2 separate regions of the Homo sapiens genome follow, and region 1 is linked to region 2. Evidence: fine-mapped expression QTL. A gene starts in region 2. The other region holds a variant in brackets. All regions are shown on one strand. Distances are from middle to middle. Region 1 overlaps DGKD (diacylglycerol kinase delta). Region 2 holds the start of DGKD (diacylglycerol kinase delta).

The links.
Region 1: its variant is fine-mapped to the expression of DGKD in whole blood (TOPMed, PIP above 0.99).

The regions. Positions count from the first base shown.
Region 1 is chr2:233,437,265-233,451,927 of GRCh38, reverse strand. It overlaps DGKD (diacylglycerol kinase delta), which reads right to left. Exons shown (of 30, transcript NM_152879.3): 8 at 14,449-14,551; 9 at 13,549-13,711; 10 at 9,933-10,041; 11 at 6,166-6,305; 12 at 5,132-5,216; 13 at 3,747-3,841; 14 at 3,553-3,652; 15 at 2,552-2,825; 16 at 1,797-1,946; 17 at 878-1,006. Among named protein-coding and RNA genes, the nearest start is that of DGKD, 90 kb to the right of the region's middle. RefSeq lists enhancers at 670-1,233, 8,170-8,219, 8,240-8,349. The variant T/C (reference allele first, on the strand shown) is at 5,764.
Region 2 is chr2:233,344,795-233,361,907 of GRCh38, reverse strand. It overlaps DGKD (diacylglycerol kinase delta), which reads right to left and starts at 7,414. Exons shown (of 30, transcript NM_152879.3): 1 at 7,234-7,414. The coding sequence starts at 7,389. It overlaps SAG (S-antigen visual arrestin), which reads right to left. Exons shown (of 16, transcript NM_000541.5): 15 at 15,496-15,505; 16 at 14,853-15,101. The coding sequence ends at 14,996. RefSeq lists a silencer at 7,225-7,464 and enhancers at 7,715-7,764, 7,905-7,964, 12,308-12,407.

The DNA.
Region 1 (14,663 bases), 91 kb before region 2:
AGGAGCTACAGCCTTAGGAGAAGCTCGTGTCTCTGAAGCTGGTGGACCGGTATTCTGCAGAACGTTATTATAATTAAATGTTTCTAAAATTATGTATAACCATGTCCAAATTTTGCCAATAGTCTTAGGTCAAAAATCACTGGAACAAAGAAACCATACTGGGTGGCAGAAACCAACACCTACAAAACACACAAAAAAATGGCTTCTAAGGTGTGTGCCTGTGGTCCCAGATATTTGGGAGGCTGAGTGGGGAGGATCACTTGAGTCCAGGAGGTCAAGCTGCAGTGTGCCATGACCACATCACTGCACTCCAGCCTGGGCAATAGAGAGAGACCCTCTTTTAAAAAAAAAAAAAAAGGCTTATAGAGTCAGTTTTCATGTTCTCATTAAATGTAAGCCACTCCACCAAAATGATCTCTGAGAGTTGAGGCTTAAGGCTTTATAAGGCTGCCTTCCTAAGGAATGAATATCAAGGAATGCTCCAGGCGGCCAGGACCTCACCCTCCCTGCGCCTCCTGCGACCACGCTAGAAGCACGGGATGGTCCCTCGGGTTCCCTCATCAGGCCGGCCACCTCCCTTTTCCACTCAGATAATTCCTTAATTCTTCCAACCCCGACTCGAGCATCACCTCCTCAATGGCGCCTCCTGGGCTCCTTGGGTGGTTATTTGGGTACTATCTGGCTTTTGTTTTTTGTTTTTTGTTTTTAAAAAAAAAAAAAAAGCACTTTTCATACAGTCGTGTAAATTTTTCAATTCCACCTATCTTTCTCAGGGGCCTGTAAACTCTCCGAGGGCAGCGAGCCCATCTCTTTCAGTTTGACGGGACCAGTGTTGTGCTAGGGCCCCCACCAGTCCCTCCTGCTGGCCGCCACTCACTTGGGTACAGGATCTTGGTGTTGAGCGCAGGCAGGCCGTCCCGGCTTCCCGGCTGGGGCGGAAGGGAAGCAGAACTGCCTAGGGACAGACTCCCTTTGCTGATCAGCTTTTCACACGGAGATTTCGACACTGTAACAACACAGCAGAAAACCTTACAGCTGTGTGGAATAGAGACTGTGAAATCCTGGGGGGTCCTTAGCGACACGAGCAGGTGGGAGGGCTGAGGAGGGAGGGCTGCAAACCACAGGCAGTTGCGTGAAGTGTGTGGGACAAAGAAGGGGGCGGAGGACCGAGTGGGTGCACATGTTTGGGGGGCTGGGCTCATGGAGAGGTTAACACAGGCCACAGGTGGCAGCGCTGGAGGGAGGGGTGAGCCCAGTCAGTCCGGGCTGTGGGAGGCGGAGCACACACACAGCAGAGCTCTCAGTGGTGGCCATGCAGTGGCCATGGGTCAGTTCTGAGCATGGGCCTCCCAGCAGCCTGCACAGGCTGGGGGTGCCCTCCACCAGGGCCTGCGCTGTGGGCTGTTCCAGGAGGGGCAAGGACAAAGAAGGCCCACGCTCACCCACCCGCCTTCCCTCTGCCAGACACAGCCCCTTCTGAGCAGTTCTGGGGCCCAGTGTGGTTCCAAGGAAGCAGTGAGGGCAGGACGCAAGTGCTCCTCAGGGAGGCAGTCCTCGCCCTGATGGAGGGGGTCTCGCGGGTTCTACTGCTGTCCACCAAGACAGACCGCACACACCCACCTCAAGGGCGCGCACAGGAGATGCACAGAAACAGGCCTTGGGCGCTCAATTTTTATGTAACCAAGTGGCCAAAGCAACTATGAGAAAGTGCCCTAAAACCTCCCCTGGCAAGCCCGCTACGTCTCACCAAAACCAAGCACACGACGGTGCGCAGAGGGAGGTGGAGGCACAAGTACCTTTGCGCTGGCTCCTCCCCTTGGGGACCCCGAAGCTCTCGCTGTGGGACAGTGGTGGGCACACTCTGTGGTCCATCTTCTCCTCTGACTCAGAGAGGCCCAGGACGAAGCCCTCCTGCTCCTGGGTCTGGGCATTCTGCTCATCGACAGCTGTGCAAGGAGAGTGTGTGCGGCTGAGCACGCGGGTGCAAAGCCAAGGGCGCTGTCAGGCTGGGTGGAGGGCCCCTCATCCTCACCCCACGGCCTGATCTTCCTCAAACAACCTCTGGCTAAAGGCTTGGACTCCGAAACCCCACCCCCACCCATCTTCCCCCTGGTCCTGGCACTGGGGCAGGGCGTCCCTGCTAACAGGCTGGGAGGTCTGGAACCCTTGCAGGGGAAGGCAAGGGATGCAGAGGAGCCTGGCGCAGGCTGGAGGGCTGCAAGCGGGAGGAGCGGCTGCATGGACACGCAGGTGTGCGGGTGTGAGGCCGTGACCTCAAGGCTCTCACGGGAGTGAGACGCTTATAGTGAAGTCAATGAGGGCCAGGAAAGAGGTCGAGGGGAGGCAGCATGAAGGGGTCTGAGGGTGTGAGAGGAGGGGTGGAAGGAGGGCAAGCGAACTCGTTGGGGGTCTGGTGCCTGGACATGGGTGGAGAGGGCCGCAGTGGAGGTTTTCTCAACATGCACCCTTCTGTCATCTCCGTGTTCAGGGGACGCTGGGCATGCCCAGTGCTGGCCTGAGGAAAGCCCCTCCTCATCACAAGGCCAGTTACCTTTTTCTGTGTGTTCTATGATCTGACGAATTGCTTTCTTCAGGCTGTTGGCTCTCAGCATGAGCTGTTCTCGAGGCCGGAATATCTGCGGCCGGGCCGGGCAAGCTGATGCCACCAAGCGGTCTCCGGTGGAACCGCAGATGCTGCCCGACCCATCTCCATCTTCAGCCTCCTCGGCAATGGTGGGGGGCGGGTTGGGCAGAGAGGACGAGGCCTGGGACTCATCGTCCAAGGTCTTGAGAAGGGAATCCAGCTTCTCTTTCAGGACAGAGCACTGAACAAGGAAAGGAAATGGCATGCAGAGCTGAGGCAGGAGAACAGGGTCTGCAGGCAGGGAACCTCAGGCCATTTCACCCAGACTTCCTAGAACTCGATCAAAAGGAAAATCCTAACTCTCCACGCCTAAGTAACAAAAAGACCAGAGGCTACTCCCTTTGCAAATCCCCACCTTTCCCGCCCTGGCAGGTGGGAAATTGGGGAAATTGGCTGTCCACAACCAACCATACTGATTGCGAGCTGAGTCTTAGTCTGCATAGAAATGCAACTTTGTAACTTCACCTTAGCCTCTGATTGGTTGCTTTTTGCAACCAATCAGATGTTTGCACAGGAGTGTGACCTTTGTAACCACTTCAGCCTCTGGTTGGCTGCTTTCTGCCACCAATCAGACTGAATGCAAGCTACCACTTCATTTACATGAGGTGAGCATGAAGTGGCCAATGGGATACTTCTAGGGGGTATTTGGACCCAAGAAGATTCTGTGTCTGGACCCTTGAGCCGCTGCTCGGGCAGCTCCCACAGTGTGGAGTGTACTTTCATTTTCAATAAATCCCTGCCTTCGTTCTTTGTTGCTTCATTCTTGTCTTCCTTTACTGTGCGTTTTGTCTAATTCTTTGTTCAAATCACCAAGAACCTGGACAACCTGCAGTCACGGCCCTCTGCTGGTGACAGAGCAAGCTTCTCGCTGCCTCAATGCCCCTCCCACCCAGGGCACGGGAACAGACCTTCTTGGCCATGACCTCTGACTCCTCCGAGCTCTCGGTCGTCTTCTCATAGGCCTTCCCCACCCGTGCCACGAAGTCCTTCACCGTCTCACAGAGCACTCTGTGGGGAGAAAAACAGAAAGACCCTTCTAGAGAGGCAGCTCCAGGCTGGGGGCCAGGGCACCATGCCCTCCCCAGGGCCACCAGGCACTCACTTGGCCGAGGAGATGACCACCGAGTGCTGGTCCGAGGTGAGGATTTTAGAAAGGTGGGCTGCAACCGAGTCTTCATAGAAGAGAATCTGCTGTACCTGCAATCACCCCAAATGGCCAGGACTGTTGGTCTCTGTGACAGCAAGCTCCATGACAGTCCCAGTGACTCTGTCAGCCACTTCCTTGCCAGCACAAGCTGGGAAAGATGAGTCTCTCCTAACAGACACTGTCTGACCCAGCCAAGCCTCAACTCACTTCTAACGCTAATCTGGGACTCACCTAGTGCTAGGTGAGAGATTTTAAAAGCTTCGTCAAGCTGCAGGCAAACTGCAAATGAATCTCCTTCAGTCTGCGATCCCAGCACGGCCTGTGCTAGGAGCTTCCGTCCTGACCCCTACTCATCCTGACAGCGGCATGCTGGCGGGTCGGCTCCAGGTTTGGGTCCGTTTGCAGCAGAGGCTGTTTCCACCTGGCTGTGAGCCCCATCTGGACACACACTCCTGCCCCCACCATCTGTTCTGGCTGTCAGAAGGGCAGCCCTATCCCTGTGGGATCCCTGCTGTCCTTAGGACCCAGCCCCAGGGTCGCAAACTTCACTACTGGCCAGACAGCGAATATTCTGGGCTTCCCCCACACACTCTTCCTCTCAAAAAAAAAATTTTTTTTTAAAAAAAGGAAAAATAAAAAATGTACAAACCAGTCTTCGCTTGCAAGGCCGTGGGCCCAGGCACATCTGGCCTGCAGGCCTTGTTTGCTGACCGTTGCCCTAGCCCCTGACAAAAGCTCACCTCTTTGTACTACCCCACCCAGCACTGCACCAGCACAAAATAGAAACTAAAGACAAAGTCTGTTCTCTGAGGGAAACTGTAGGAGCGTTAAACACAACAGTAACAATCACCAAATGAAAAGAACCACCAGCTGGACTAGAGGAGCCTGAGCGAAGGGCAGCTGCAGACGCCACAGAGAGGTGGGACGGGGCAGGAGCCGGGGGGCTAGGGGAGAGCCGCGGCAGAGCCGGCTAGAGCATTCCAGGCACGTGGGCACCGCGGCGGGGGAGGGAACGGGCGCGCACCGTTTGGGGCTCACTGCGCAGCTGAGGAGATGCACGGACAGGGTGGAAAGGCCATTAGGAGGACCACCCCACCACCCGGCAGGGCCTATGACAACCCCAGGAAGCCCCTAGAGGGTCACAAAGCCCAAAAGGCCCCTGCCAAGGGGAGTGAGAATCCTCTCAGCCATGGGTTCACCCTGCGCCTCCGCAGGCCTGACTGTGACACCCCAACACCAAAGGGGAGGCGTCTCTGCAAGGGAGGTGATGCAAACCGCTGACAGGACAGTTCTGATCACATCAGCATGCGAGCAGGGTGTGAAGAACAGGCCAGCAATACCTCGGAATCCTCGCTGAAGTCTTCGGTGACGGTAGAGGAGGAGGCCTGCCGGGGGAGCTTGGCCTCGTATGCCATGACGCTCCACCTGCACACACAAGGTCAGCTGCACAGGCGGCAAGACGTGCAGGCCCACAAGGGTGAACCCTGCGCCGTCCGCTTTCACGGCTGGCAGCCTTGATCTTTACACCGTTTCTGACTTCATTTTTAGGCCCTTGGTCTTGACTCTGTCCCATAACTTGGCTGAGAACAAATGTCTGCACTCCACAACTAACGGCAGTACAGCTCCATAAAGAGAGGAAGGTCTCCCATAAATGGCTACCTTGAGATAAGATGCTGCTTCTGGGAGAAATGGATTTACCCTCCTCAAGAGAGCTGCAAATGGCTCAGCCAGCTGGCCCAGTGAGATGAGCATTTCACAGGCCCCAAGGCACACAGAGGAGGCCTGAAATGGTGGGGGCATTGCAAAACCACAACTGTGCTCAGAACTCCAGGCTTCTGGGAGCAACTAGGAAGGCTAGGAGGCATCTCATCAGCACCCCATGTGCCACAGGCATGTGGTCAGTGAGTGCCAAGTGTGTCACTCGGGACAACAGTACCTTACTCAGGGAAGGTGTCACAGTGGCTTTAGGCAC[T/C]AGAGGATAATTTCCCAAAACTTCTTCTGGGAACAGAATATGAGAAAATGAAACTGTTCAAGTAAACGACAAGGAGCATTCTTCCGATGGGTATTAGATCTCGGGCTGAAGCAGCCAAAGATGGCACAGCTGCCTTCTCCACGGCCCTGACACACTCAGGCTTGGCCTTCTGGGAAGACTGGATCATCCTAGGGCATGGCTGGTTCTTAACCTGTTTTGTTTTTATCCTTGTCATAATCTGACCAAATATCAAAGACTATCCGAATATATACTCAGGTCAAATCTTTACAAATAATTTCAGAGGGCCCATGTTTTCCACAGACCCCAGGTTAAGAACACCTGGTCAAAGGGACCTGTCTCTCAAAGTCTCCTCATACGGCACCGGAGCACATCCCCACTCACCTGTCCAGCATCTTGGTGCTGGCTCTCTCCAACTTCTCCAAGATCTGGGGGAGCTGGGTGTCGTCATCGCAGGCTGAGCCCCAGCCCAGTACTCGGGCCAAGTCGTTCCCTGTGCCGAGCGGCAGCACTCCCAGCTGACACTAAGGAAACATGGGGGACGATGCGCAGGCAAACACCTGGGGGCAGGGGCCACTTCCCAGCCCGCAGCCCTCCTTGTCCCCCACCGTGAGGGTTACGTTAGCAATGTGGGGACGTGACCTAAAACCACGCAGCTTACACATTACAGGCAGAGCCCACTGGAGGGGACAGATGGCATTTTCCTTGGCAATGAGACAGAAACATGACTGCCCTTGAGATAAGATGCTGCTTCTGGGAGAAATGGATGAGCCACAGGTCCATCTCTCAGCTGTCATCACATCTTGATGGTCAGCCCCTCACACCCTCTCTGATCTGTCTCCCAAATCCCTCTGCTTCCCATTTTCACCACCGTGACCACAGCCCCAAGGAATCACTCTGATGCCTCGCCACCCGTCCCTCCATCCACTACAGCATCTCACTCACTAATGCCAAATTCTTCTTCCAAAAACATCACTAGTATCACTTCTCTCCTCTAAATCCTATCCAAAAAAGGTGCCAGGACCATCCTCAGTCTGGAGGCTACCCTGGAGCCTTGCCAGAGCTCAGCCTCTGCCCGCCTGCCTGCTGTTCCAGGAAGAGACCTCATGCATTACTCAGGCCTCACCCTCCACCTGGATTCCCATTTCAGAGCTCCAATGAGATCCCACTACACCATTCCATTGCTTAGGAGGCCTCTTAAAATGCCCACTGCCCAGAGCTCACCAGCCTTTGACTCTGACAACAGAGTGACCAGGGCCATGAAGGCTGCGGTGGAGTGTGTGGGGAGGCGTTACTGTCCTTGAGGCAGGAAACCTGCCGTGGTCCAGCCTACAGCACCGTACAGCCCTCTGCCCACCAGGTGGAGGTGACCATGCTTGAGGCCCTGCCGCCTGTGGGGACAGCAAACACCAGGGAAGGTCCTGCCTCACCAAGGGGACATTTGGCAGTAGGGGAGGCAGGAGCGAGCAGGCCAGGACACCGGAGCCGACACACTAGATGGAGAGAACCCAGTGCTGAAGGGTGCCCAGAGGGTCTGAGGACTCCGCGAGGGCTTCCTGGAGCCTTAAAGGAAAAGGAGAGCAGCGCACAGCAGGCATGGATGGTGCTCCAGGCAGGGAGACACCACTGGGAGGGGGCAAGGCAGAGCTCAGTGAAGAGGAGGACAGCGAGGAAACAGGAGGCAGACAGGCAGAGAAGCAAGCAGGAGGCAAAGCTGGGACTCTTAAAGGTCTGGACTTTTCCCAGAAGCATCGTGCTTGGGGGGTGCACAGGCAGAAATGCCCCGGGAAAGGTCGCCTGGGTGAGCTGCAGATGGACAGAGGCCAGGGTACTGTGGGTGGCAGGACTGAGGACACAATTAGTGAGAAACAGGCAGGAGGAAGAGACGGACGAACCAAGAACAACTGTCCGATTTCCTGGCTCAGACATCTAGATGGATGATGTTTTCAGACTCGAAGGAAAGGAACGCAGGGTGGGGGCTGAACGTGGTGTAGTGTTGGAAACTCGAGGCACTAGGAGACATCCAGAGAGGCCCAAGGCTCAGCTATCAATTGAGGCGCCCCCAGGAGAGAGACGACAGCAGAAGCCCTGCAAGTCGCTGAGCGTTCAAAAGCGAAGGAGGAGAGGCCCCAGCAAGGCTCTGAGGACACAGCGTTAAGGGAAGGGTAAGGAGGGAGAGGCCACCATGGAGCAGTAGCAGCCAGGAAGACAAGAAACCCCGAGGCGGCAGGGGCCCAGCGAAGGCATGGCCACCACATCAGGTGTCAAAGAGACGCAGGGGAGAGAAATGTGTGCTGACCTTGGCTGAACGTATGAAAATCAGCCACAAGGTTCCACTGTCTTCCTAACTAGTGACAGTGAACTTGCAAGTAATACACAAAATCAAAAATTAGAGTAGTCTATGCTAATCCACCAGCAGGCGGCACCACTTCTCCTCCTGAGCCACTGGCCTCACGGCCCGAGCTGTCAAATCCACCCACCTGGAAATACTACCAAGTGAGCAGAGCTGGGTAGGCACCACAGAATCACTGAAAAATACATCCACGTCACACAGAAGACTGAATTTTTTAAAAATGGGGCCATAATAAACATAAGAAAATACAGATGCAAATCTTAATCTTGGGGTGTAGGCAGCTGCAAATATGACAGACGTTGACAAAAATCATGAAAGAAAAGACCACCCCCCAAAAAGGATGTTGAACTGACAAACGACAAACCGGGAAAAAAATATCTGCAGTGACAGATAAGAAGTTAATGTAACAATAATCCTCACACACCCATTTTTAAAGGAAAAAAAGGTGAATACTCAAAGAGAAAATGAGGCAAAAAAAAATATGAACAGGTGATTTATTTAAAACTTCATAACCAACTGAGGAGGCGTTCAACTTCACCAGGAATTAAAGAAGTAAAGGTCAGACATTTTTTGGTCTACTTAGCTGGACAAAAACTAAAGAGATGAACAGCTTGGATGGTGCACGGGGAAAGACAGCTTTAAAGGCATCAGGCATGGAAGCTGGCACAGCCCTGAGGAAAGGCAGTTTGTCAGCACATTTCAATACTTAAGCTTGGGTGCGCTCAGAGAGGAGACCACTGGGAAGTGATCTCCGTGCTCACACATGGAGGTGAGCTGGCCCTGGGCTCCCGGGTGTGTCCAGTGGAAAACGACACACAGATGCCTACTTACAGACACAGGCACAAGGTGTCTGCAACATCTTAATTAGTGGTTTTTTAAAAGCAGTAACAGGCCGGGCGCGGTGGCTCATGCCTGTAATCCCAGCACTTTGGGAGGCCAAGGTGGGCGGATCATGAGGTCAAGAGATCGAGACCATCCTGGCCAACATGGAGAAACCCTGTCTCTACTAAAAATACAAAAATTAGCTGGGCGTGGTAGCGTGCGCCTGTAATCCCAGCTATTTAGGAGGCTGAGGCAGGAGAATCACTTGAACCGGGGAGGCAGAGGTTGTAGTGAGCCGAGATCGCACCACTGCACTCCAGCCCAGCAACAGAGCAAGACTCCACCTCAAAAAAACAAAAACAAAAACAACAACAACAAAAGCAGTAACAGAATAGCCCGTTTAAATTACAAGTGCACTGTGCATTGTATGTACTGTGATCAAGAGAGGTCAGAGACAGCAAAATGTTGGCACTGGCTGATCACCTGGGGAGGCCGTGGCTTGGTGTGGAAATTAAATGACTATATGAACATTTTTATACACAATCAGGAAAATCTATTTTTATTTTAATACAAAAAACTAAGTCCAATGAACCATGACTCTGACTTGAGAAACTCAAGTATACTGCCGTCCCCTTCTCACAAGCAAGAGGCCTCAAGACAAAAATTACCCAGTAAAGCAACAGCCCCACCCAGCCCTGCTCCCCATGTGGGTCCTTTGTGGGCAATTCTTTTCGTAGCTCCCTTCAGGTCCCCCTCATACATCATGGCCAGAGCCCCCGGGCCTCCACAATGCCAGGGGGTGGCCCAGGCTCTCCCCTCTCTGCCCTGGCCACCAAACTGCACACTCCCCAAAACCACCAATGGTTTCTGGCCTGAGAACAGGTGCTCCGAGATGAACAGGAGCTGAGACTGCATGATTTCCCTCTAACCTCCGCACCCTCTCTGCTCCTGGCTGGGCTCCCTCCTGTCCTGGTACCTGTTTATGAAGGTTGAGGCTGTCGATTTCGGAGAGGACCCAGCCAACACTTCCATCCCCGCCACAAACCAGAATCCGGAATGTGTCAAACTTCTGGAATAACCGTAAGCTGCAGAGAAAAGAGAAAGGCCGTGAAATGACATCCATTCCACAGGACAAATGACAGGCTTGTCAGTACGGGGCTGAGGGGCCACCTGTGCTCCTCATGGCTGACCTGCACCAGAGGCAGAGCACGCACAGGCCCTGCCACGTGACACCAGCCGCCTCCACTCAGGGTCCACTTTGTCAAAGGGACGACAGCAGCACTGGGGTCCAGCCAACTGCTCCCACCAGCCACGCCCCACCCAGCGACAAGACCACTCAGCTTGGTGAGCCACTGCACGCTCTGCAGACATCACAGGCAAAGTGGTGGGCCAAAACTGCATCCCCTGCCAGGCTCACGGGCACAGCCTGCCGTGGCCCCTAACCATGTGAGCCCACCCTGCGTCACTGTCCCTGCCCCATCCACATGTGGCCCCTGCCAGCCTTCCCAGCATGCCCTCTGGGCTGCCTGCATCACCCTGCACCCTCAGTCTTGGCACTCCCCGGCCCTGGGCCACAGTCTGGCTTCCGCCCTGGCCCTTGTTCTGGTCACCCTGGAGCCCCAGGCTGCCTGACCTGCTGCGGGCTGCGTGTCCCCACTGCAGCACATATGCCTGGGCCCACTCAGTCCTCCGGTGATGTGACCCACGCCTCCTACCCTCCTAACTCCTCGGTTTCCTTCCTTCCTGGGCTCCCCCTGCCCCTGCCCAGCAGCGTCCCCACTCAGGAGACCAGTGCCGCTTCTGCTCACTCCTCATCCTCTTCCTGTGTGACCACATCCAGTTTCAAGGACCACACAGGTGACTCTGGATCAACAGCCCCCAGGCCACTCCTGAAAGCCAACACTTGCACCTGTCCTCCAGAACACACCACTCTGGTATCCCAGGGCACATCCAACAGGACACATCCCTACTCGGAGAATGGTAGCTCGACCACCAACCCAGTCCAGAGGCCAGACCCACCTCCTCTCAGCCTGCAGCCGACCCAGCCCCTCCTGGCAGCCTCTCCTCCACACCCAACCCAGCCACCCGCTCAGGTCACCACCGTGCTCTCGCAGAGTCCCACAGGAGCCTCAGTCACCTTGACACCCTTCCTGAAAGCTCCCCATGAGTTCCAGGAAGACCTTTCTAAAACACGAGCCTGGCCACGGGCCTTGCTTTATGAGGCTGCCCCTCATTTGCAGGAAGGAGTCGAACCTCTTGGCCAGCACCCGCAGCCCTCCCTGACGGCAGGTGCCACCTTTCTGCTGCTGCCTGGCCTGGCCCCACTGCATTCCCTCTTGCCTCGCCTCTGCACAAGCGGTGCCCTCAGCCCAGAAGCCTCCCGCCTCCCTGCAGCCTTCAGAACACTAGAGCTCCTCGGATGCCAGCTCGGGGAGACGTGGAAGGACGCCCAGTTTGACTTGCGACCCTGCCCCCACCGGGTTCCCAGAGAAGCTGTGTCACCCCCACTGAAGTGCCGGGGGACCCTGCGTGTGCTCCTACCCATTCCCTGCATCTGCACTCCCCGCCTGGCTCACCTGCGCACCCTGCCTCGAGCTCAGTGTCTGACCCAGAATGAGTGCTCAGAAGACAGACAGGCATAGGTGATGCGGCACCAAGCCCAGGCTCCACACAGAACACTGACACCTGTAAGGCCCCCTGCTCTCGGGAGAAGAGGTGACAGGTCAAGGCCAGGAACTGGAACATGAAGCAGTAGCTCCAGATTCTGCTGTGAGCTGTGTGAGATGAGCTGCTTCCAGAAATGGTAAATGACGACTCAACTCCCCTTACGCCGCTGTGGGGGCTTCCTAAATCATCCCATCTCATACTTAACTCCCACTACGAAACATGGGGTTTTGCTTGCACACCAAAATGAATATTTCGTTATTCTCGAGTTCAGCTGTGTAACCTGCCCTGCCCACAGCCATTTCACAGCATTCCTCCAACACCCCTGGTACCATGTTTAATAACAACCTCAGCCTGCTTGGTGCATTGTGATAACAGACGTATTATATCTCCACTTTCCCCACTTTTTAACTAAAATTATTTCTTTGCCAGGCAGTGTAATCCAACACTCTTGAGAGGCTGAGGCAAGAGGATCATTTGGCTCCAGGAGTTTGAAACCAACCTGGACAACACAGTGAGACCACTCTACAAAACATTTTAAAAGTTTTGTGAGGCTCAACAAAACATAAAAAAAAAAAATTAGCTGGGCATAGTGGTACACACCTGTAGTCCCAGCTACTCAGGAGGCTAAGGCAGGAGGGTGGTTTGAGCCCAGGAGGTTGAGGCTGCTGTGAGCCAGGATTGCACCAGTGTACTCAGCCTGGGTAACCTAGCAAGACTCTTGTCTCAAAAAACAGTAAAATTAAAATTAAAATATCTTGATCAGCCTACTAGTGAATGCAATCCTCCACCATTCAGATAAGAAGTCTTTCTACAGAAAATGTGGGAGTACTGCCTTTGCGGAAGCAGGCTGGAATGCTGCCATCTGTGACTGCTCTCCGACTGCGCCTGGCTGTGAGTGGGGATGAGCAACACAGAAGACACCCACAGGACCAACGACGAGCAGCATGTTCCTCTTACCCTGGCATGTACGCCAAGGACACGCAGGGAGCTGGCCGAGGTTCACATCAGAGTAGCCCCTGGCTCCTAATACACAGACCCCACTGACTCCTCCCAGAGAAATACAGGCCAGACCACAGGCTCTGCAGGCACTTCCCACTACGGGTATCCTGGACATCTCCGGCAGTGCCAGCAAGTCCTCTTAGAGCTCCGACCTGGAACTGATGCTTCCAGAGGAAGAAATTCATTCAAATGGCAAAATTCACAAAGGCAAATGTTTTCTACAAACTTATGAAAAGTAAAAAACTACAAAGAACACACATGGCTCTCCAGCAAGCAGAGGAACAGTCTAATCTCTGTGCTGCTGATGCACAGTGGAAATCGCTCTGGCCCAACGCCGCCCTTACGTGTTCCTGCCTTGCAGCACCTGCACACCGAGCGGCCTCCTGTGCCTCTCAGCAAACACTCCTCCTGGCCTCGCTGCAGGACAGCTTCTTCCTCAATGTTAGGCAGCTGTTACAAAGAACGAGGCACGCCAGGAAAATACACCCACAGATAGATAGATAGATAGATAGATAGATAGATAGATAGATAGATAGATAGATAGATAGATGATAGATAGACAGATAAATAAAAAATTATAAAATGAAAGAAAATACACCCACAACGTTGTATGCAGACACATACAGAAGGCATTTGTGCAACGGCAGGTAAAGAAGAATCCTGATTGGCTCAAAAGATGCACGTGCATGGGTGTGTGTACATGGATGTATGTACGTGTGTGCACACGCGCACTGTGTTCAAAGTTGGAAGGCCATGCACCTCTATTAAGAGTGGGCACCTCTGCAAGTGCAATTTGGGAAGGAAGCAGTTCAACTTTTCTTTCCTATTTAAAGCTTTGTGTCTTTGAACTTTTTTTTTTTAACAAGCACACACTATCTACACAATTTTTAAAACTCCAAGAAAGATATATTTTACAAGCTTCCTACCCGAGGTGTGGGCCTCCGTTCATGAGGTCGAAGACCTGGGCGGGGTTTAGTAGCTGTTTGAATCTTCTGAGGAACTTCACACCCTGGTTGTCCCCACTTTTTGAATTGACGAAGACCAACAGTGGGCTTGTGCAAGAAGGAGGACAGCTGGCCTTCCAGAACCCTGGACGCAAGAACGAACAGAAGAAAATATATAGGCCACGGAAGACGCTGAGGGCACCACTGATGGAATCAGCAGCAGCAGACCCCCCCAAAGGACACACACCTGACACATGCACACCTGTAAGTCAGGAGGAGGTCAGTGAACAGTTCCCCACAGCCGGTCTCCATGTGTGAGGCCGGGAGCCCCATCCATCTGACCTCCACATTCACAAGCTGTCCAAATGCCACCTTTCTGCTGTCTTCTCTTCTTGATCTCCTCTGAGCCATGTACCCCACATCCCCCTTTCCACCAGTACTTGTCAACAGGTGCCACCATGTCCCAGCCAGACATGAGAGCAGCTGCAAGCCAGTGTGCCAGCATGTGCTAGGCAGAGATGGGGCACAGCTTCAATGGCTCATGACGGAGAAGGCCCCAGACCTGGGTTGCACTCAACAGCATCACCTCCACGTCAAGTGCCAGGCTCGGGTCTCAGGCCTGTCTAAGCCTGGGTGCCACTCAACAGCATCACCTCCACGTCAAGTGCCAGGCTTGGGTCTCTGGCCCATCTAAGGGCAATGCCGCAGCATCAGGGCGCCGTGTGCCGCTCTGTGCAACTCCTCCAGCACCCCCAACAGCTGTGCCTGACCTCTTGCTGACATCTCACCAAGATAACCAACTCCAGAGCTGGAGAAGAGAAAGTGCGTGGAGAAGGAAGCGTGTGGGCGTGCATGAGAAGGATAAGCATGTGTGGTACCCACCATCGGAGTCGATGCTGTTGAGAGCCGTGGGTGGGATGACTGACACTTTGCACAGGCCAAGTGGGCACTTGGTCAGCAAGGATTCTTTACACGATGTGTGAACCTGAAACAAGAGTCCCCGCGTCACCAAGGGTCACTGGCATCCTTCACACACACCAGAAATCCTCCTGCCCTGTAGCTGATGAGCTGGCCTCGGGGGAGGCAGGTGATTTCAG
Region 2 (17,113 bases):
AGGAGAATTGCTTGAACCCAGGAGGCAAAGGTTGTAGTGAGCTGAGATCATGCCACTGCACTACAGCCTGGGTGACAAGAGTGAGACTCCGTCTTAAAAGAAAAAAAAAATGTCTAGTATCTTTAGTAGAGGCGGGATCTTGCCATGTTGGCCAGGCTGGTCTCAAACTCGTGACCTCCAATGATCCACCTGCCTCAGTCCAAAAGTGCTGAGATTATAGGCGTGAGCCATCTGGCCAGTGTGGACTAGAATTTTCATCTGGTTCTTTTCCATAGTTTCTAGTTCTCTGCCAAAACTCTCCATCTGATCTCGTGTCTCCTCCAACACAACGAGCACAGTTGTTATAAAGTCTGGGTCTGGAGTCTGGAAGCCCTGTGGGTCTGTCTACAGCCTGTAGTTTCGACTGGTTTTAGCTCAAGTGCCTCGCCTCCCTTGATGTCTATTTTTTTACTGTATGCACAATCATGAACGTACAAACAGACTCGTGAAAGTCATTAGAGGCCTCCATTGATAACTGGGAGGATTAGAGGGAGATATCTCCCTCTAGAGAGGATTAAAGTTTGCTTCTGTTGGGAATCTAGAGACACTAGTACACTGGGATTACTTTAATTTCAGAGGACTGAGGTGATTTGAAGCAGGGCTGCAGTCCTTCCAATACTTCTGGCTCCTGCGCATTCCTTGGAAGTGGCTTCTTTGGATCCCAATCCAAATTGTGAGGGGAGGGTGTCACCCAGGACTGTTGCCCTTTGGCAGAACCTGGCACCTCAGCCCTGCTAAGGCACTCAGACAGTCTCACAGGGCTCAGCCTCTTGGCTCCCATGTTTTGTTCAGGGCCCAGTGTTCTTTCCCCAGGGCTGCCCTAGGGCTGCCATAAAACTTCAAGGCTTAAAACAAAACTTGGAAAAAAAAAAAAAAAAAAAAAACTTGACTGTCTCACTGCTCTGGGGGCTGGAAGTCGGAGATCAAGGGATCAGAAGGCCGCACTCCCTCTAAAGGCTCTAGGGGAGATTCCATCTGTTATCTCTTCCAGCTTCTGGTGGCCCCAGGCATTCCTTGGTTTGCATCAACGAACTCTAATCTCCGGCTCTATTTTCCCATAACCTTTTTCCCAACATGTCTTTCTGTCCAAATCTCCCTCCCCTTCCTCTTATAAAGAAACCAACACTGGATTTAGAGTTTCTCCTAAGTTCACGATGATTTACTCTCAAAATCTTTAATTAGCCAGGCACAGTGGCTTGAGCCTACGCTCCCAGCTACTCAGAAGCCTGAAGCAGGAGGATCACTTGAGCCCAGGAGTTTGAGACCAGCCTGGGGAATATAGCAAGACCCTATCTCAAAATAAAAAATTTTGGCCAGGCACAGTAGCTCATGTCTGTAATTCTAGCACTTTGGGAAGCCAAAGGGGGAGGATCGCTTGAGCCCAGGAGTTTGAGACCCCAAGCATGGGCAACATAGTGAGACCCTCGTCTCCATAAAAATGTGTTTTTAAATTAGCCAGGCATCATGGAATGCATCTGGAGTCCCAGCTACTCAGGTGGCTGAGGCAGGAGGATTGCCTGAGCCCAGCCAGAGACTGCAGTATGCCACTGCACTCCAGCCTGGACGACCGAGCAAGACCCTGTCTCAGAAAAAAAGAAAAAAAATTTTTTTAAAGATATTTAACTAATATCTTATTATGTGGGCATCCTGAAGTTCTAGGTGGACCAAATTTGGTAGAGATGCCAAATCCACTACAGACGCCACTACAGATTCCAAGGTCAAAAGCAGCCCCAAATACCACACTCACTTCCACAGATCTTCAGCCACCCCAGATCCTAGTCCAGAAATTCAGCATCATCTTATTAGCAGACTGTGCTTGGAAGAGTGGCGCTGCAGTCACTCAGCTCACCACTGCCAGAAGCAGAAGGCACTGCTCCCTACTCACCTTCCAGACCCAGCCAGTCACTGCCTCAAGAAGCCCTCCTAGACCTCCCTGATATCAGGTCAAATTCACCTATGATGTCCTCTCAAAGTATTCTGGCCCTCTCCTCATCAGCACCCGTCCCCATCACAACTTCATATTAACTGTGTGATTGTTTTATTAATGTCTTCTAGACTATCATCTCTAAAAATTTTTGTTGTTACTCAATAAGATACCCCTGGTGCCTCGCACAACAGTTAACAATGTTAAGATCTCAAATATTTGCTGTTAAACTGAACCAGTGAAATACAAAATGTAATACCTAGCCCATGGTATTCCCACTAGTACTCAATAAATTAACGATTTCTTTAAAAAATGGTCTTTGTTAATTTTCAGCCAGATTTGTTTGTATTTGCTCTTCTGGAGCCGAGAGATGGAGACTCAGACCAGCCTGAGCTGGAGAAAAATGGAATCAGGGAAATGATTCCTATCTGGGATAAAAAAAAAAAAAAATCAGAAAGACAAAAAATAACCAAAAGCAACCATTTAGTGATCATTTACTATACATCAGCCACTATGTTAGGTGTTCTACACAAATTATCCCATTTAATTCTATGAGTTAACATCCCCATTCCTATTTTATGGATATAACAACTGTTATTTCTATTTTACAGACATGGAAACTGAGACTCAGGAACACAGAGTTAACATTTACTTTCACTACAACCAACCCAAGAACTAATATTTTCCATGTTTACAGATGAGGAAACCACGTCTTAAGGGAGGTTTAGACACCCTGTCCACAATCGCATGCTTCATAACTAGAAGCGCAGGGTCTGAAGTGACTTCATCTGACACCAAAGTTTAGACTTTGAAATCCGACAATAAAATGGCATTAAAAACCTTTTACATTACTTCATCCCTACTAGGATGGCTAGTATCAAAAGAGAGATAATAACAGTTACTGACAAGGATGTGGAAAAATTGGAACCCTCCTCATACACAGCTGGTGGGAATGTAAAATGTTACGGCAGCTTTTTAGCTGGAAAATAGTCCGGTAGTATTACCATATGGCCCAGCACTTCCACTCCTAGGTGTATAGCCAAGATAAATGAAAACCTATGTCCACACAAAAACATGTGCATGAATGTTCACAGCAGCATTATCCAGAATAGCCAAAAAGTAGAAATAACCCAAATGTCCATCAACTGATAAATGGATAAATAAAATACAGTGTGCCTGTAGAATGGAATATTACCCAGCAACAGAAAGAAATGAAGTACCGATACATGCCATGACATGGATGAACCTTAAAAATATTATGCTAAGTTAAAGAAGCCAGACCACATATTGTATGATTCCATTTATGTAAAATGACCAGAATCAGCAAACACAGAGACAGAAAGTAGATTCTTGTTGCCTATGGTTGAGGGAGTTGAGAGGAAACGGGGTGATGAAAATGTTCTAAAATTGACTGTGGTGATGGTTGCAAAACAGCGAATATACTAACAACCACTGAACTGTATCCCATGTGAATTATATCTCATAAAACTGCGGTGCATTTTTTTAAGTTTTTTACAACTTAAACCCTTTACCTAATTTTTACTAGTCTTCATTTCACAATGGAAAAAATGCTTTGTTTAAATTTAAAATCAGGAATCCAAGCACTTTCATGCTCATATCCAAAAAATGTTAACTTTCTAGAAACTTTTAAATAAATTAAACTCTTTTAACTGATAGCTTTGCAGAATTACACGGTTCTTCACTGAAATTTCAAAATACCTTATAATGTGCTGGTGAATGTGCTGGTCGGAGTGTTAGCTCCATTTTCTTTCTTTCCATTCTAGCTATGCAGTTCTACAGAGTCATTACTGTGTACTGTAGTCAGGAAATACAAATGAAGTAATGTCTTTGCTGTGGACAGCTTCAACTCTAAAGAGCTCGAACATATTAAAAAATCAGACATGCATGAAATGCTAAACTGATAAATGGCCATCACAAATCTGCACACATCAAATTTTCAATATGCTAAAGATCTATAACCTGAAGAATTATTTGAAGTTTGGAGAGGCTTCTCTTTACATGTGTGCCATAAGGTCTTGTTTTTCAAAGTCTGGTCCATGGACCAGCAGCATCAGCATCTTCTGGGAGCTTGTTAGAAATGCATATTCTGCCAGGTGCATTGGCTCAAGCTTATAATCCCAGCACTTTGGGAGGCTGAGGTGGGTGTATTACTTGAGCTCAGGAGTTTGAGACCAGCCTGGGGAACATGGGGAAACTCCATCTCTACAACAAAATACAAAAATTAGCCAGCATGGTGGCATTTGCCTGTAGTCCCAGCTACTTGGGAGGCTGAGGCAGGAAAATCACTTAAGCCCAGGAGGCAAAGGTTGCCGTAGCTGAGATCGCACCACTGCACTCCAGCCTGGGTGACAAAGTGAGACCTTGTCTCAAAAAAAAAAAAAAAAAAGAAAGAAAGAAAGAAAAAGAAATGCACATTCTAAGGCCCCACCCACCCTAGACCTACTCAACCATAATCATCATTTTAACAGGATCCCTAGGAGATGTGTCTGCACATTAAAATTTGAGGAGCACTGCCCTAAGACATTCTCTTTTGTTTTTCTCTTCATTAAGACAGCTCTGACTTGCACTAGACTAATATTTTAAAAGCCTGACATACATACAGTTCTGGTCCTGGGCCAGCTTGTCCTCAGATCCATTCTTTGTCCTTCTGCTCCAGTCCAAGTTGTGGAGGAGGTGACCCCAGCAAGGCCAGGGTTCCCAGGCAGGAGGGGAACAGTACATCCGCAGCAGCAGCTGTGCCCTTGCAAGGCTCCAGCCACTGCCAGATGGACCCCTTGTGACCCCAGTTTTTGGTGGGTGACAGCTGTCCCTGGAGTCTGAAATGCCATCTCCTTCCTTCACCCTCCAACTTAGGGGTGGCAGCAGTTTCCTGCTTGTTGCCTCATCTCCGGCTTGCCTCATTGCAGCCTGCATTCTCAGTTCTCACATCACCTGTGTGACCACTCCCCTAGATTACATTCCTTCTGTTCCAAATACTTAAGGTGAGTTCTGTTTTTCTTTTTAGACTCAGACTGCTACCCCATACCATTTTTGATGTTTCTATTATGTACCATAGATACCAGAGGAATTTTGTGAATGGCTTATCTGCTGGAAAAAAAAAAAATGGAGCTATTACATACAGTCAACCTCGCATTCCCACATTCTGACAATCTCTTAACAACTCAGAAGAAAAATCAGCCTTAAGCTATCTGTACAGCAGATGTGACTGTATTCAGAAACTCTAAGTCCTCGGGGTGTATTTTTAACAGTCTACCCATCACTCCTCCTCAACCAGAACAGCTGGTATAGCAGCTATTGTTTTAGGAGAAAAAAGAAGGAAAGCAAAAACACCTCCTAACCAACAAAATTCTAAACACTGGAATCTCCCAGGAATCAAATCTCTCTCAACACAATCTTGATCTTAATCAACCTTGTAAATCACATGATCTACCCCACACTGGTCAGTACCTTGCCTGGGCAACAGGAGAAAGCAACTCCTATCAGTATCATTTAGGGCTATGTGGAGATCTTCCCAAAAGCACATCTGATCCATCACCCCCATACTTTGAACAATCCTCTGTGGCCACCTCTTGCCCAAGGCCAAAAAGCAAACCCCTCAAAGGACCACCCCTTCGAAATTCAGCCCTAACCAACCCTTCCAACTAATAAGTCTAATCAACGTGATCCACCTCTGGCCCAACTTCTGATCATTTCGCAGTTGTGCCTAAAGCTCTAGACGCAAGGTTCAAATATGTAGAAGGCCATTTCTTACCCACTTAGCCTGGTGAATTCTTTATCCCTCAAGATCTCACCTTAAAGGAAACCACTCCTGCCTCCCCAGGGCAGGTCTCTGCCCCGAGTTTCCGCGGCACTTACAATGTTGTCATGTCAGGTGCACAGGCGTCCATCTCCCAACTAGACTGAGAATCCCTAGGTGTAGAAACTGCCTTCCATCTTACGGTCCTGACCATGGTTCCAACACACATCCACATTTACGACCTGTGACACCCTGGGCAAGTCATTTAACCTTGATTCTATTTCTATTCCAATTCCAAAAGACGGAGATGATAGCATCCAACTTATTGGGTTCTCACCAGTACTAATAAACTAACCATGTCAAGTGCTGTAAAGCTAACCCAAGAAAGTGCCTGGCACATAGAAGGCTTATTAAAGAATTGTTATTTGCTATTGCTATCATTATCATCACTACTGCTACTGTTATACCCGGAACAAAGCAGGTGTTCGGTACCTATTTGCTGAATAACTGGAGCACTTCACAACAAACCTGTTTGTAACATGTTAGGACCTCAGGTTCCCCCATCGCAGGTATCAAAGGCTGACAGAAGAGAAGGCTCCCACGGTGAAGGGAACGGCTGAACCTAATCCGCCCCGGAGGAAAAGCGCACTGCAGCAGGAGGAGAAAGTCCGTGCCAACCGGATCTGCCAGAGCTGCCCCAGGGACCCAGCCTGCTCGCAGCCACCTGTCCAGCCACCTGCCTGAGGAAGCAGTGTTCTAACCGGGCGGGCTCACCTGGAGCAAAAACCGTAAGCTGTTTTCAATAGGAAGCACAATGGGAAAACAAACGGTGCAACTTTCCTCCTGCAAAAAGGACGTGCGTCTTTATCTAACATTTAGCGTCAGGAGTTCTCCGTGGAGAGTTGGGTGCCAAGCGGGTGCGCGGTCCCGGCTTTGCTGAGAGAGACGGTCACTGAACGCGCATCCCTTCCTTCCCTTTTGGGATGAAGGGGTGAAGGGGTGATCCCTCGCACCCGGGTCCGAGCGGACTTCTGAGGGCACCACAGGGAAGTCTGCAGGGCACTCGCGGGACACCACCCGACCGCTCCTGAGAAACGTGCAGAACCGGGGTTTGGGGACCGCGGACGCCCGCGGGGCGCAGCCGGGAGCCCCCGCGTGGGACCCGCTCGGTGGCACGAGCGCAGTCCCCTGCATCTAGGCCTCAGTTTCCTCCGGGTCCTCGCGGCCCAACTCGGCGCGCGCCCCCCGCCCAGCGCGCGGCGCCCGGGGCGCCCACCTGCGCGCCCCCCGCCCGGCCCCACAGCCGCCCGCCGTCCGTCGGGGGCCGCGCGCTCCGCCCGGGGCGCCGGCCCGTTACAGCGGCGGGGCACGCTCGACAGGGGCGGTGACGCCCGCGGGACCCCGGGCCGGGCCGAGCCGGGCCTGGGCGGCCGCTCGGGCAGGGCCACGGGCCTCGGCCGGGGCTGCCGCGGCGTGAGGGGCGCGCGCCCGGGCCGCCGCGCCGCGGGCTCACCTTCTGTCGGATCTGACCCGACGTGGACACCTTGCGGATGAGCTTCTGTGGGGAGCCGGGCTCCGCCTCGGGCTCGCTGTCGGACGACTCCTCGGGCGGCGGCGGCGGAGGCGGTTGCGGGGGACCCGGCGGAGGGGCGCCCGCCGCCGCCGCCATGCTGCCGGGCCAGCGCGCGCACCGCGGGCGGGGGCGGGGCGGGGCCGGCGGGAGGGGCGGGGCCGAGGGCGGGCCGGGCCGGGGGCGGTGGGGGCGGCCTCCCGCCTCTCCCCGCCGCGCCCCCTGCCGGCCATGCGCGCAGCTGCAGACGGCGCCGCGCGGCCCCTCCCCGCCCCCACCTGAAGCGTCCCGGGCCCCCCGCCCACCTCTCCGGGCCGTGGCTTCTGTGTGTTATTTCTGGAACGCCGTTTGTGTTCTTGTTTCTATATTCACTTCTTAAAACATCTCTACTCTTCCGCATCAGAATGTAGGTAACCTCAGGCAGGCTGGGGCTGTGTCTGTCCTGCCCAGCCTTGTGTGGCCGAGTTTGGGGCGAGCTCGAATGCGCGCGCGCGTGCTGGAAAGAGACCCCGGTACTGGGACGGGCCTCGGGACGCCAGAGCTGGGATGCACCGCTCCATCTGGGAAGGCTTCCTGGAGAAAACGGTTCTTAAGGAGAGATGGAAAATGTGAGCAGGAGTTGTGACTAGAGAGGGAACCATGTTCTAGGCAGAGACCAGATTTGTGCAAAGGCCTGGAGGCAAGAAAGAACGAGTGTTGGGCGAAGACGGGGGAAGAAAGGGAAGCTGGTGCTTAGAGCAAGGAAAATGGCATTAAGATATGAGCCTCGGGGCGGGCAGGTCGAAGCGGGCTTTGGAAACCAGATAAGGGGATGGAAGGCAGCAGGAAGCCCTTGAGGGATTTAACCCTGGGCGGGGCTGGGTCACCACGCTGGGGCCTGTGATCCGGGCTTTGAAGTTATCAGGGCAGGTGGACGCCCTGGATTACCGAGGGGCTGAGAGATAGAGACGTGGACTGAGATCCAGGTGGGGAGTGACCAGCGACTGGAGGGAGACAGAGGTGACCAGAACGAGTCCCATGTTTCCCAGGGGGGCTGCTGGATGGTGGGCGGGTGGGGTCCAGCGCTGCTCTGGGCAGAAGAGGAGGAAGCGAAGCTGGAGATGAGATCAGCTAAGTTTTTGGTGCCATCCAGGTGGAGCAGGGCTTGGTGCCACCCAGAGGAAATGCTGTCCATCTGTCTGCCCTGCTCTGAGGGGCAAATCAGTAAGGGACTGCCCAGGTGTGCCCTCTCCCTGTCAAAGGGCTGCCGCTAGAGACCTCGCCTGCCAATAGGCATTCGCTGGCCGCGCCGCCCTGGGCAGTGACCTGGGGCTGCAGAGTGGCATCTGGCATGGGGACACGGCCAGGGGCATGGGCTCACGGCCAGGACAGAGGAGGACAAGGCCTAAGGCAGGAACAGTCCGGGACAGGCCGAAGGCCCCATGGTGCCCCAGGGTACTATAGCCACTAGCCACATGTGGCTACTTAAATTTCAATTAGTTAGAATTCAGCATTCCGTTCCTCAGCCACAGGAGCCACATTTCAGGGACTCAGTAGCCGCATGTGGCTTAGCAGCTGCCACGCTGGATAGCACAAATATAAAACACTTCCCCCGTCCCCCCAGAAAGTTCTGCAGCACAGTCGCATGCTGAACTGTGTCCTCCCGTAATTCATATGTTGAAGTCCTAACCCCCAGTACCTCAGCATGTGACTGCATTTGGAGTTAAGGTTTTTAAAAAGGTAATGAAGTTAAAATGAGGTCACAGGGGTGATCCCTAATCCGGTATGACTGGCGTCCTCATAAAAAGAGGAGATGAGGACACAGACACACACAGAGGGCAGCCCATGTGAAGACACAGGGAGAAGATGGCATCTACAAGCCAAGGAGAAAGGCCTCCGATGGAACTCCCCCTGCCGACACCGTGATCTCGCACTTCCAGCCACCAGAACCGAGAGCGTCAATTCCTGTGGTGGAAGCCGCCCGGCCTATGGTGCAGTGCTCTGGCAGCCCTAGGGAACTCATGCAGGCACAAAGGGCTCCAGCCTCCCCACAGGGTTGGGACTTTTCTATCAATTAACTACATGTGGAGTGATACACAGAGGCAAAACCCTGGAGGAGTGTGCAAGGCGGAGGAGGGGCGGGGACGCACAGGGGAAGAAACAGTTCATTCCTTCATTCCGCGGGGGAGCCGGGTGACCTGAGCAGGGTTTGGGATTGGAATGGAGAGGTCAGATATGAAGGGAGTTTCCCAGGAAAACGCAAAAACGGGGAGACTACCCCTACCAGGTGAGCAGAGCGGGTGACGAGGGATTTTGGTGAAGCCGGTAGCAAGGCGGGTGCGGGAGGCAGGGAGGTGAGCAGCGGCGCCAGGATGCAGAGTAGCCTCCCGGCCCTGCTCTGAGGCAAGGACTTCAGTCCCGTGGGCACTGGAGCTGGCAAGGGGGTTTGGGAAAGCAGAGGAACTCATGTGTCTGGGCAGAGAATGATCCATAGGAGAGAAGACTAGAAATAGGGAGGCCATTAAAATGCTGTTGCCGGCCGGGCGCGGTGGCTCACGCCTGTAATCCCAGCACTTTGGGAGGCTGAGGCAGGCGGATCACGAGGTCAGGAGATCGAGACCATCCTGGCTAACACGGTGAAACCACGTCTCTACTAAAAATACAAAAAATTAGCCTGGCGTGGTGGCGGGCGCTTGTAGTTCCAGCTACTCGGGAGGCTGAGGCAGGAGAATCACTTGAACCCCGGAGACAGAGGTTGCAGTGAGCCGAGATTGTGTCACTGCACTCCAGCCTGGGCAACAGAGCGAGACTCCGTCTCAAAAATAATAATAATAATAATAATAATAATAAATGCTGTTGCCTACACCTGTTAGGAGCTCAGGGGACATCCAGGCCCCAGAACTCATCATTTTAGAGTCAAGGAGGCAAGGGCATGAACGTGACGGTTAAGAAGCAGAAACCGTGGCTGGAGAGGAGGAAATCTGCAATTACCAGAAAGTACTGAGATTGTCACAGACAAGAGGAGCCAAGGAGACATGATGACTAAACGTCACGTGGGTTCCTAGATGGGATCCCAGAACAGAAAAAGGACATTAGGTAAAAGCTGAGGACATCAGAATTAAGTATGGGGCTTTAGTTTAATAATAATGCATCAATATTGATTCCCGGGTAGGAGGAGGGTGAGGATTGAAGAACTACCTATCGGGGATTATTGTGCTGATTACTTGGGTGACAAAAGTATCTATCTGTACACCAAACCGCCATGACATGCAATTTACCCATGTAAAAAACCTGCACATGTACCCCCTGGACCTAAAATAAAAGTTGGAAAGAAATAAGTATATTTTACTGGAAACAACATTTGAGTCACTCAGTGTGGCAAATGTACCCTACTCATGTAAGGGTTAATAATAGGGGGTTTTGGGTGTGGGGGACCTCAGTATAACATCTTTGCAACTTTTCTGTAGATCTAAAACTACTCAAAATAAAAAGTGTATTTTAAAAAAAGAGGATTAGGCTTGGTAAGAATTATATTCTTAAAGCAAAGAAAACTGGCATAAATGTTCTTTGATGATGAAGCAGCTTTTTTGTTCTCCTGGTGAGCGCACAGCGCTGTTCCCCTGGAGATCTCAGGAAGGGCTGAGACATCAACTCCCCCAAAGCGGTGGCCTGGAAGAGCACATTCCCTCCGGTGCCTCTTTATTGAATGAGTCACACTATGAATCATCTCTAACGACAGCCTGCTCCCTGAGTCTACCCCACCTTGAGGGCATATCAAGATGGCAGTAATAACACACTTCACGTCCAACCTAATTCTTCTTTGTGACACGTCAGTGAAGAGGCGCAACTCCTGTCAGAAAGAACCACTTCACATTGGAGAATATAAAAGGGAAACTTGAAAACATGGGAATCATCCAATTTTTACCCTGAACTAGGGTCATGATTGTCATTTGGAGCAGCACATTTCTCCACTGCATGTGACATAGAGCTTCTGGTCCCCAAGCATGTGAAAACCAAAAACCACCATACACATTTCCAAATGTCCCCAACTCCCACCCCGCACCTGCCCTACTCCTCAAAGATCAGTAAATGCGACTCAGTCCTGTGAAATGAAACTGGAAGGAAGAAAGGTTTTTTAAATGTTAAAGGAGTAGGAAAACAGACACCCTAAAAAGGAATTAACCACACATGTGACAAAATTGCAGAGAACTGAATACACACACTAGTACAAATCCAGTTGTGGAGATCTCAGTCAGATGAGCAGACTGGACCCACGTCGATACCCCGCTGGGATATTGTACTGTAGCTTTACATGATGTTGCCACTGGAGGAAGTTGGGTAAAGCGTTCCTGGGGTCTCTCCGTATTACCCCTTACAACTGCATGTGAATGTGCAAGTCTCTCAATGAAAATTTCTTTTTTTTTTTCTTTTTGAGATGGAGTCTCGCTCTGTTGCCCAGGCTGGAATGCAATGGCACAGTCTGGGCTCACTACAACCTCCACCTCTTGGGTTCCAGCGATTCTCCTGCCTCAGCCTCCTGAGTAGCTGCGATTACAGGCACCTGTCACTATGCCCAGCTAATTTTTTGTATTTTTAGTAGAAACGGGGTTTCTCCATGTTGGCCAGGCTGGTCTTGAACTCCTGACCTCATGATCCGCCCGCCTCGGCCTCCCAAAGTCCTGGGATTACAGGCATGAGCCACCTCGCCCAGCCTGAAAATTTCAATGGAAAAAAAAAATAGCAAGGGCCAAGGGCAGTTGTTGTTGAATCCTAAATGCTAATCTCCCTCCCCCCACTCCACCAAACTCTCCTACTTCCATTCAGCACCATACAGTGGGCAAAGGTCTAGTTATAGACTCAGGGACACCAGCATTCAAGCCTTGACTCTCACTAGCTGTGTGACCTATGTGTAAGGTACATAACCTTTCTGAACCGCAATTTCCTCATCTAAGAAATATGAATGATGCTACTGATTTATAAGTACTACTGAAATGGTTACATGTCAGATGTGAAGTACTTGGCACAAGGTAGGCACTCCATCAATAGCAGGGATCCATCCCCCTTCTCCAGCCCTTCATTGCTGGTTGCAGAACTTTCTCCATGCAGCACCTTCAACTGCTCTGTACCCCGTTTCTTGCACTGCATCTGTCCCAAAAACTCTGGGCCACACATTCAACCTGCACGTAGACTTCCTGCCTCCTGATACCAAGGGACACTACATGCCAGTAGACAGCCCCACACATGTGCAGGCTGAGCTGAGCCAAGCTTCCACTTTCTGCTCAGGGCAGCTGGCTGCTCGCTTCCTCCCCCAACTCCCTCCCCAGCGTGGCCAGCTGCAGGCCATAAACAAGCCAGCACCTGGAGGGCGTATCGAGACATTTTGGCACCAAAATAACTAGGAGGGTAAGGGCTGTGCTGACCTCTGCTCTCCAGGGATTGGTCTTCCAGCCCTTCCCTCCAGCTCTCTCACCCACGTAGTTCCAAAGGTCGGGCTTATTAACGTCCACCCTGACTTAGGATGTCCTGGGGTCAAGCAATGCAGGAACCAACGGGCTGGTCCTCTCACCAGGCACCACAGGGCAGAATCCCAGGCCCTGGGCTAGCCCAAGAGCTCTAGCAGGAGCTAAACACAGCAGCCTGTGTGCTGTGGCAGAGGACAGGGGAAGGGCTCAGTGCAATGGGGAACAGCTTTGGGAATCCTCAGAGGAGTGTGCCACCCTGGCCATCCCTTGTCTGCGTGCCCTGAGGGGAGCATGGGTTGAAATGGTCGTGCACCATTACCTTAGCATAGAGAGAAAAAGAACGAGGGACTGTGTCTGATCCTGCTAACTCGCAGCCTGAAGGACCAATCTTCCACCTGTAGTCTAGTGTATTATAAATCCTCCTCCCAATGCCAGGATGCGTGAGCCAGCACACGGGTCCACACCTCGCTTTGTCTGGGATCCCATCCAAGCTTCCCAAGTGGAGCCTCCTCATCTAAATCCCAATCTCCAGGACCCGAACAGCTGGAATCCTTCTGAACAACCCCAGATGCTGGGAACCTTCATGTGTATGGAACCCATACCCTGGCCAGCCCTCTGTCGCCATGTTCCATCCCAGAAGCCTGATCCACGTGTACTCCCCATCTAGAACCCCTCCCACTCACCCTCTGCCTTCTGTGAGTGGGTTGAACTGTGGAGGAATCTCCAACCCCCCTTTACCCTGCTCCCTTAAAGCATGGACCAGAGATGGACCAGAGCCTATGCATCTCCATCCTCTCCTTGGCCGCCATGAGCCTGTTCAGTATCTGTGCCATCAGCAGCAGGCCCGGTGGGTACCTCAGGGCAGGAAGGGACCCCACAAAGGAAAGGCCCTGGTATCACCTCTATTATCCCTCCTCCACCTGCAGTTCACCTTCCTCCCTGACACTCAGAGTGCTCTCCCCTATGCCTCTCACGCCCAGTCTCAGTGAAGCACGCTCTAAGTAAGCCCATGTGACTCACAATCAACCCCCTTTTCTGGGACTCTCCATCTCCAGGGCTGGGCTCTGCCATCGCTGACCACGGGGTGTTGATCCTCCCAGCCAAAGCTGAGCCAGTTGGATTCTCCTTCCCAATAACTGCCCACTGGGACCAAGAGACGCAGAGCTGGGAACGTATGGTGCTGAGCTGCATGAAGAGCCGCCCTGGAGAGTGGGTCCCTGACCCCTGAAGCTTCTCTGATTCCTGCTTACCCCAGGTGTGGCAGCTCAGGTTTGTCCTTCAGTTCTCTGATCACACCGGGGTCCTCCCACTACATTCCTTCTCCCCACCTTAATTTAACCAAATCTGATTTTGCTTCTTGCATTGAATAGAACTTTACCAACAACCCAAAGCTCAAACAGACACCTGGACCCAAAAGTTGAATCATTAACCAAGAGTATTTTTGTCCACAGATGTTCTCTGCCCTATTTAACTTAGGAGGCTCTTTAGGGGCCTGGAAGTTGGGACTGGTCAGGTAATTAGAAACATACACTGGTGGCCAGGCGCAGTGGCTCACGCCTGTAATCCCAGCACTTTGGGAGGCTAAGGTGGGTGGATCACCTGAGGTCAGCAGTTTGAGACCAGCCTGGCTAACATGGTGAAACCCTGTCTCTAATAAAAATACAAAAAATTAGGCGGGCATGGTGGCACACGCCTGTAATCCCAGCTACTCAGGAGGCCGAGGCAGGAGAATGGCGTGAACCCGGGAGGCGGAGCTTGCAGTGAGCTGAGATCACGCCACAGCACTCCAGCCTGGGCAACAAGAGCGAAACGAAGGAAGGAAGGGAGGGAGGGAGGAATAAAGGAAGGAAGGAAGGAAGGACAGACGGACAGACGGGAAGGCACTGTTTCCAGAGAAACAGCTCAGACTGGGACTCCTAGGAAAGCCCCTGGACACACCGAGGGCCCCACCTGGTGAGCACATTGATTTCCAGACGCCTTCTCTCCCTCATGGGAGTGGTGAGCCCTTCCGTGGGAGGCTGGCCTCCCTCTCCCCAACCCTCCCACTCCAGGGACCCTAATGGTGGCAGCTTGTGTCATGTCATCAACTCAGCCTCCCCAACAAATCAACCAACTCATGACCCAGGGGAGAACAAACAAGCTTTATTTCTCGGAAGAAGACTCATCCTTTCATACGCAGCATAACTCCAAAGGACTAAACTGTGGGGCTTTGCTCGTTGCACTGGTAACTACAGGTCATTTTCCGGCATCCTGAGCCGACATCTTCACTCATCAACGTCATTCTTGTCTCTCTTCCCCTCCTCAGCTTCTCCTGCATCTTTCAGATTATGGCGAGCAAACTCCTCAAAAACTAAATTTGCATCCTGATAACTAAAATAAAACAAACAACATTTTGATCATTGCACGCCCTTTGAAGCTGAAACTGAAACAAGATCCTTGATCTTTTTGCAACGAAGGAACTGATCAAGGTTTTCCCCATGATAGAACATGGGGGCACGCCATTTTCCTCAAGGCTTCGTTTAAAATTCCTTTAACTAGCACCAATGGGAGAAAACAAAGGCACGCGCAGAGTGAGCAAGCACACCCAGTGTAATGGTGCGTGCGTGCCGTAAGCACTAGGGAGCAGACGGGAAGTAGCGGATGTGCCTCCTGAGCCGGCAGGAGAGCTTGGGATATGTGCAAAGACTCAAAGAGGGTTTTGTGCTGGAGGAGAAGGTCCCAGAGCATAGGACAAATCAGGGCCACATTCAAGAGGCTCACTCACCTTTCCTTAGCTGTAAGCATGGAATAAAAGGGAGGCAGGGAAGAGGGAGAGAGAGACATTTGTTAGTCTAAATTCTATATCATAGCTGTACCTAGAAAATGTCTACCTTTTAGGTGACTTTACAATTTGAGAGATAAGGCCTAGATACATGCAGTTCATGATCACTGCGTGTAATTCCTGCCTCCCTGCCTTTCCCACTGGAACAGCTTTTCTCCTTGCATTTTATTTATTTTATATTTTATTTTATTATTTTATTTTATTTGAGACTGTCTCTCTCTGTCACCCAGGCTGGAATGCAGTGCCACAATCTCTGCTCACTGCAACCTTTGCCTCCTGGTTTCAAGAGTTTCTCGTGTCTCAGGCTCCCAAGTAGCTGGGATTACAGGCATGCGCCATTATGCCTGGCTAATTTTTGTATCTGTAGTAGAGAAGGGGTTTCAACTATGTTGGCCAGGCTGGTCTCAAACTCCTGACCTCAAGTGATCTGCCAGCCTCAGCCTCCCAAGTGCTGGGATTACAGGCGTGAGCCACTGCGCCCGGCCTCTCCTTGCATTTTAAATCACTGCTTCCTTTACAATGTGCCACAGCCTTCACCTCCTCACATGAAACCCCCCCAGTCTCAACTCTAGGATGCTTTCCCTGATCAGCCTTGCCCCCTCTGATGTCGCTTCTCCTTTCTTATTTATTTATTTGAGATGGCATCTTGCTCTGTTGCCCAGGCTGGAGTGAAGTGGCACAATCTCGGCTCACTGCAACCTCCGTCTCCCAGGTTCAAGTGATTCTCCTGGCTTAACCTCCCAAGTAGCTGGGATTACAGGCACCCACCACCATGCCTGGCTAATTTTTGTATTTTTAGTAGAGACGGGGTGTCACCGTGTTGGCCAGGCTGGTCTCGAACTCCTGACCTCAAGTGTTCCGCCCGCCTTGGCCTCCCTGCCCAGCCAGTTGCTTCGCCTTTCAAAGTATTTCTCCTTCCATGTCCTCGGGACCCCATTGAGGTCAGGGTCGCCAGGGTGCCGTGAGCATGTGCACCCTGGCACCTCCATCTGTCAGGCTTCAGAGGCCTGAGACCTGGGACTTGACGTTCACCAGCACCCCAGGGTTAGAGTGTGCATTAAAGCTTGAGGACCAACCCCCAGCCGCAAAGTTTTCAATTTCTGTTAACATATTGATTTTGTTGTTGTTGAGTTATGTTTTCACATGTGTTGTATCCCCAGACTAACTGCTATTAATTTGAATGGTTTTTGTACTTTTTTAGCTTTCTGCCCACCTAGTTTTGGGGAGCACAGCGGCGATTTGATGGTGAGCCCCTACTCTCGCCTCTGGTGCCCACCTGGAAGCCAGCACTGGGAGGGAGTGTCTATGAGGGTCGCTACGTACAGGGGCCCTAGAGAGGCTAGCTTGTCAAAACATCCCCTGAGCAAGAAATACCCTGCGGCCCACAGTGCTCAGCGAAGAAATTACACTAAGCGGGACCATCAGCCTTGCAGAGGTAGACAACAAGGAAGAATCAAATCAGCATCTTCGGATTCAGTAAAGATGCCCTTGACAGGGGACAATAAAAACTTGGTAGCATGTCACAGCACTTATTACACACAAATTACTTGGTCCCCAGGCT